Homo sapiens: one gene and its partner. The protein of the gene in region 2 interacts with the protein of the main gene of each other region in a pairwise test. Each region holds a gene or a part of one and is shown on either strand. Other genes may lie near its edges.

The links. Proteins that work in one complex are often made in the same cells at the same time.
Region 1: the proteins of CREB3L1 (region 2) and TSPAN2 interact in binary tests that used the Homo sapiens proteins (3 or more experiments, as listed by UniProt).

The regions. Positions count from the first base shown.
Region 1 is NC_000001.11:115,055,002-115,058,654, forward strand, and holds part of TSPAN2 (tetraspanin-2), read right to left. Parts: intron 2,608-3,653; coding exon 2,536-2,607; intron 1-2,535. UniProt on the Homo sapiens protein: May play a role in signalling in oligodendrocytes in the early stages of their terminal differentiation into myelin-forming glia and may also function in stabilizing the mature sheath.
Region 2 is NC_000011.10:46,312,151-46,315,803, forward strand, and holds part of CREB3L1 (cyclic AMP-responsive element-binding protein 3-like protein 1), read left to right. Parts: intron 1-174; coding exon 175-324; intron 325-461; coding exon 462-520; intron 521-700; coding exon 701-769; intron 770-3,020; exon of another isoform or gene 3,021-3,653.

The sequences.
Region 1 (3,653 bases), on a different chromosome or scaffold from region 2:
ATAAATAATAATAAAAGACAGTTAACTTCATATCCTGCTTTGGGTCTTTCAGCTCCTCAGGAAGCCTGCACTGCCAGTTACTTTTTTTCCTTCCTATACATTCAGCCTCTCCTTATCCATTGACATTTCTACTTATCCTATCACCATGCTCAGTTCTTCAATCAAAACAAACAAAACAACACTCGAGACTGTCCTCCTCTAGTTCTGCCATTAGGCCCTCCTTCCCTTCATTGCCAGCTTCTTTTTGTAAAAAACAAATGTACAAAAGGTATATTGGCTTTAGTCACAAAAGGAATACATGCTTCTTGTAGAAATCTGGAAAAGAGATTTTTTTTTTTTTAAAAAGAAATGTCTGTATTCTCACCATAAAAGGTAATAAATTTGTTGGTGATACTTACACACACAAACACACCTACACCCTTAGGTCATTCTTTATATTCAACAGTGAGCTTTTTAAACTTAATATTACAACTTTAAAAATGCCTTGTTTCACTAAAAATTTCTTTGAAATCATGATTATGATGATTATTTTTTTTTTTGGAGACAGAGTCTCGCTCTCTCACCCAGGCTGTAGTGCAGTGGCGCGATCTCGGCTCACTGCAACCTCTGCCTCCCAGGTTCAAGTGATTCTCCTGCCTCAGCTTTCTGAGTAGCTGGGATCACAGGCACATGCCACCACGCCTGGCTAATTTTTGTATTTTTAGTAGACGGGATTTCACCATGTTGCCCAGGGTGGTCTTAAACTCCTGAGCTCAGGCAATCTGCCTGCCTCTGCCTCCCTAAGTGCTAGGATTACAGGTGAAATCATGATTCTTAATGGTGGTAAAACATTTCATCATATGAATATACTACAATTTATCCAAACAATCCCCTATTGCCACATATTAAGGGTCTGTCCAGTGTTTTGTTCTTATGAATAACATGTAATGAGCATGATTTGCACAAAAACGTCTGTCTGCATTTCTGATTCCTTTTCCTTAGAATAAACTCCGAGAAGTGGAATTTCTGGATAGAAGGGCATAAACATACTTAATCCTCTAGTCTTACATAGTCATACTGACCTTTAAAACTATTTACTAATTTCTCTGAAAATGCTCACGACATCACGTTTACCAAAACTGTGTATTATTGTTAAGGGAAAGGAAAAACACTTGGTCAATTTCATAGATTAAACAACAGCATCTCTTCATTTTAATTTGCTATTGATTTTAAATATTACTTTTAATTTTCTATATTTTCTATATGTTTAATGGTAATTTGGACTTTGACTTTTGTAAACTTTCTTTCTGTGTCCTTGGCTCAAATCGAAACTTCTTGAAAGGATGCTCTCTCTCCTCACATCTCGCTCTCTGAAACCTGGGCTCTGTCCTCAATCCATCCCTCACAGCACGTCACCAGTTGGTTCCTTGCATGCTAAATCCTGCCAGCTTTTCAGCAGTTATTAGTAGACCTTCTTAGGCTTTCAGTTCCCCACACAAACCATGTCATTTCTGCCTCTGTGTTGTTGCTTACGCTGGTCTCTCGGCACGCAGGCCTCCCCCTCCCGCTTTCTGCCCAATGCTTGCATAATTACTTTCCATTCTTGAAGATTTAGCTGAGACATCATTACCTCTGTCAGCCTTCCCCATCCCCCAGCCTCTCGCCTCTCCTAAGTGCGTTTCCCTCTGTGCTTTCCGAGCACGTTGCACATTCCATGCATTCCTAATCACTGGACCGTATGGACTTCATGTTCATCCCTCCTATCAGACTGCAATGCAAGCTCCTTGTGAGTAGGAACTTTTTCTCCTTCTCCTTTGCATCCACAGTGCCGAACATAAGGTAGGCAGCTGATCAATACTGAATTGCCCTCAACAGCAGCACCTGGGCCTGGTGACCATTCCCTCCCCTTCCCGTGCTGTCTCCTCACTTGTGTCTGGCCGCCCCTCCCAGTTTCCTTCTTTGGCATCTCTTCTTTTGCCCACCCTTAAATTGTCCCCCAAGGATCTATCCTCATCCTTCTTTTCTTCCAAGTCTAATGGATCAAATCCGTATTTATAGCTTTAAGTTTCCCATCAAGTGCTGACACTCAGACCTCTCTCCTGAGCCACAAACCAGATTTTCCAACTGCCTACTGGATATTTCCATTTGGAAGTGCCACTGGCTCCTCAAAATCACCATGTTAAACACAAAGCTCATTTTCTTTTCTCCACAATTGGCTCCTTTTCCTCTCTCCCTCAGCTCCATAAATGACACCATCATCTATGTAGGTGGTGAAGCCAAAAACCCAGTAATGGATTCTCCTCTCTTCTCTGGTCACCACTCCTGTAGTTGTCACTTTCTAAAGGGCCCTCTTTAACATCTCTTGCTAACAACAAGGACAGCAGCCTTCCCAATGGGTCTCTCAGCTCAACGCTATTCATTTTCCATCAATCCTCTATGCTGCCACTAGAGCAAATTCAGTAAAATGCAGATCCCATCCGAGATTCTACCTTCAATGGCTTCCTAAGCTAGCAGCATGATACTACAGGTAGAGTAAGAACCTTGGTAGAAGCTTACCTTGTGTCCTAGAAGCTCCTTTGGGCATGTAGGTTGGACCTGTTCGGAGCTTTCTTTTCCACAGCACTGAAACTAGAGAGTCAGAAAAGAGACTTCAGGACCAGGCGGGAGGAGTAGCAGCTACAAGTCTGGGCACCCTGCTAAGGACTGGGGTGCCGAGGCGGCAAAGCAGCTCCGAGGCCCAGTCACTGCAACCCAGACTGCTATTTCTGGAAGGAGAGTGAAGAATCACATAATCATGCTGGCAAAACAAGAAAATGACTTCGCTAAAGCCATCTGAGTTTATGATGGGAAGTGACTCAAGGCAACCCAAACAAGGCAAGAAGCTAATTGACAGTGTCTGTGTAAATTGCTACTTTTTAGAAAGGGGTTGGGGCTTTAGATTCCTTCTTTCAGACTGGGAGTCATTTAACCTGCTGAGGAGCTCAAGTTTTATGAGCTGCAGAAGGACTCATTAGCTGGGAATAGTCTGGGGAAGAGGGGAGAAGTGGCTGCAGGAAATTCCAGGGTCCAAAAGACCAGATTTGAAGATTGGCCAGCAAACAGGTGTCCTGCTTAGGCTAGCTGGCCCTTTAAGACAAAAGAACCTGTGTGCTGCTTCAGGTCCTGGCGGCAGCTGAGGTGAAACCGTATAAATGTATAAATGGTGGCCACTTTCCAAGACATACTTGTCCTAGACAAGAACTAGGTACCTGAAAACACCTGGCCCAGGAATTCACAGCTACTTCTTCATATCACAGTGTCTAAAAAATCAGAATAACTCTGGCCTGGCCCATCTCCTCTGTAAGCCTTCTGTGATTAACTGCATGTAGCTCTGAGCACTCCACGGACAGCACAGTCCCACTGAATGTTCCAGAAGGGAGTGTAGCCATCTCCTGTGACCCTTCATTCTACAAATGAGGGAGCTGCGTGGGTATCAGGGAGGCCAAGTAACTTGCTCAAGGTCACAAGGCTGTTGAATGGTAGAGCTGCAGCTAGAAATTAGCTTTTCTGACTTACAGGTCACACTTGTTTCTGTTACACCACAATGCTACCCTCTGACAAAGCCTGCTATTTATCTGGGCTCCTTTCTCTGTAACCTTGTTTGTGCTCTTTTGTCTCTTTGGGGCATGTGTCTT
Region 2 (3,653 bases):
TGGCACCTGACACATGTTACTGAATTTCACCCAGATCCACTCCCTTTCCAGATGAGGAAACTGAGGCATAGAGCATTGTGTGCCTTGCCCAGGTCATATAGATAGCACATGGCAGAGCTTGAATTTGAACCCAGGGCTGCCTGGCTCCTAACTACCACATCATACTTCCTACAGAAATTACAGGGGACATCAGGGCCACTGCTCCTGACAGAGGAGGAGAAGCGGACCCTGATTGCTGAGGGCTACCCCATCCCCACAAAACTCCCCCTCACCAAAGCCGAGGAGAAGGCCTTGAAGAGAGTCCGGAGGAAAATCAAGAACAAGGTAAAGCCTGCCACCCTGGGGCTTCAGAGGGCTTCCTTGGTGGGTGGGCTCCCCTGGCATACCAGCTCTGAAATTGGGGGGCCCAGGAAGTGAATATGTGGCAGTGCTAACCCTTGTTTTCGGGCCTCCCCCTCTAGATCTCAGCCCAGGAGAGCCGTCGTAAGAAGAAGGAGTATGTGGAGTGTCTAGAAAAGAAGTAAGGGGCTTGGGAGGGGTGGGCAATCCACTCCCTTGCCTGACCTGCCCTCCCCTAGGCCCTCCCTCAGGGGGCAGCAGAGGCAGGGGGCACAGGGAGTGTGATGGTGGTGGGCTGGGCCGAGGAGCTGTTGTGAGTCTGGGGGCTGCCCCTGAGCCTGTGCCTGCTTGGCCCCTACAGGGTGGAGACATTTACATCTGAGAACAATGAACTGTGGAAGAAGGTGGAGACCCTGGAGAATGCCAACAGGTGGGTAGTGCCTCCTGCATCCAACCTGGCCCCCTGCCCCTCTGCAACCCGTGCCTGGCTCTGCATAGCTCTGGGAGACAGGGGAGAGGAGAGAGAACTAAGTTTAGGATGACAGGGACCCCAGAAACACACCCTGCAGCCTTGGGCCACTTACATCCTGCCCCTCTCTGTGTTCCCATTTTTCCTCACCTACACCTGGCAGGGCTGGGGAGTTGCTTAAGTGAGCAGATGTTTTCAAAGTGTGGTCCTCAGACCAGCAACAATCCCTGGGAATTATTAGAAATGCTTATTCTCGGGCCCCATGCCAGGTCTACTGAATCAGAAGCTCCAGGGGTAGGGCCCAGCGCCCTGTGTTTTAATAAGCCCTCCACGTAATTAGGTTGCACCCTCAAGTTTGAGAACCACTGGTGTAAATCCTTGTTACTCAAAGCCAGCTGACCCAGACAGGCAACATCAGCATCACCTAGGAGCTTGTTAGAAATGCAGGCTGGGCACGGTGGCTCACGCTTGTAATCTCAGCACTTTGGGAGGATGAGGGGGGTGGATCATTTGAGGTTAGGAGTTCGAGACCAGACTGACCAACATGGTGAAACCCCATCTCTACTAAAAATAGAAAATTAGCTGGGCGTGGTGGTGGGCGCCTGTAATCCCAGCTACTCGGGAGGCTGAGGGAGAAGAATCACTTGAATCCGAGAGGCGGCAGTTGCAGTGAGCTGACACTGTGCCACTGCACTCCAGCCTGGGCCAGACTCTGTCTCAAAAAAAAAAATGCAGAATTTCAGAACTCTCTCCAGACTTACTGAGCTAAAAACTGCACATTCACAAGGTCCTTGGGTGATTCACATGTACTATGAAGTTTGAGAAACAGGAGTATAGAGACAGCAGGACAGTGCCTGGCAGGTAGCAGCCACGTCAAGTCACAGCTCTGGGTTCTTACGCTGCTCTGCCATTTTTGTGACTCTGGAGAAATCGTTAAATATCTCTGGGCCCCTGTTTCTTCGTCTAAATGGGGATGATAGAAACATTATCTCATAGGGCCAGGCACAGTGGCTTACGCCTGTAATCCCAGCATTTTGGGAGGCGGAGGCGGGCAAATCACTTGAGGCCAAGAGTTCGAGACCAGCCTGGCCAACATGGTGAAACCCCCATCTCTACTAAAAATACAAAAATTAGCCGGATGTGGTGGTGCATGCCTGTAATCCCAGCTACTCAGGAGGTTGAGGGAAAAGAATCACTGGAACCCGGGAGGCAGAGGTTACAGTGAGCTGAGATGGTGCCACCGTACTCCAGCCTGGGTGGCAGAGTGAGACTCTGTCTCAAAAAAAAAAAAAAAGAAAGAAAAGAAACATTATCTCATAGGATGGATGTGAGGGTATTAATAAGATCCTGCGAATAAAGGATCCAGCCTGATGCTTGGCATTTAGAAATGTGCAATTCATGTTAGCTTTTATTCTTCTTTCATTATTTTTATTTATTTATTTTCTTGAGATAGGGTCTCACTCTGTTGCCCATGCTGGAGCGTAGTGGGGTGATCATAGCTCACTGCAGCCTCAAACTCCTGATTCTCCCCCCTCAACCTCCTAAGTAGCTAGGACCACAGGCGCACACCACCACCCCTGGCTAATTTTAAGTATTTTGTAGAGACGTGGTCTTGCTGTGTTGCCCAGGCTGGTCTCCAGCTCCTGGACTCAAGCATACCTCCTGCTTTGGCTCCCAAAGTGCTGGGATTATAGGTGTGATCCACTGCACCTGGCCTTCTTTCATTATTTTTACTTTTTTATTTTTATTTACTTTTTTTTTTTTTTTGAGACACAGTCTTGCTCTGTCGCCCAGGCTGGAGTGCAGTGGCACAATCTCGGCTCACTGCAACCTCCGCCTCTTGGGTTCAAGCAATTCTCATGCCTCAGCCTCCCAAATAGCTGGGATTACAGACGTGTACCACCACACCCGGCTAATTTTTGTATTTTTAGTAGAGACAGGGTTTCACTATGTTGGCCAGGCTGGTCTTGAACTCTTGACTTCATGTAATCCTCCTGCCTCAGCCTCCCACAAGTGCTGAAATTACAGGCGTGAGCCACCACACCCCACCATTATTTTCATTCCAAATTCCTGATAGTGCCCAGCCATGAGCCTGTGGTAGGTCTTTAATAATTATTTGCTGGGATTAATTACAATAACCTAGACAACAGCCTTGGTATGCAGCAGGTGCTCAACACAAGACTTTTTCCTTCTTTCCTTCCTTCTCCCCCAGCTTCTCCAGCGGGATCCAGCCACTCCTCTGTTCCCTGATTGGCCTGGAGAATCCCACCTGACCCCCCACCCCACCCCTCTGTCTCTGGCTGGGGTTCCTTTCTGGCCCAAAGTAGGTCCAAGCCCTTGTAGTTATTTCGCCACCTGCTGTACATTGTGGGAACTGCAACCCCTACGTGCCCGTTTGGGTGGAGAGAGATTAAACATTTGCCCACCAAGCCTGTGCTGAACGCATTCTGTATGCACCCAGAAGATTCCACGCTGAGTGGGACCCGGTCCTCACCCTCAGGGAGGCCACAGTTAATAAAGGAGACTGATGTGGAGATATATAAATAAACGAAGTGCCGTGATAAAAGCAAACACAGCAATAAAGCAAAAATGGCTGGGCACGGTGGCCCATGCCTGTAATCCCAACACTTTGGGAGGCCGAAGCGGGTGGATCACCTGAGGTCAGGAGTTCCAGACAAGCCTGGCAAAACCCCGTCTCTACTAAAAATACAAAAATTAGCCGGCATGGTGGCGCACGCCTGTAGTCTCAGCTAGTCAGGAGGCTAAGGCAGGAGAATCACTTGAACCTCGGAGGCGGAGGTTGCAGTGAGTCGCAAACGCACCACTGCACTCCAGCCTGGGTGAA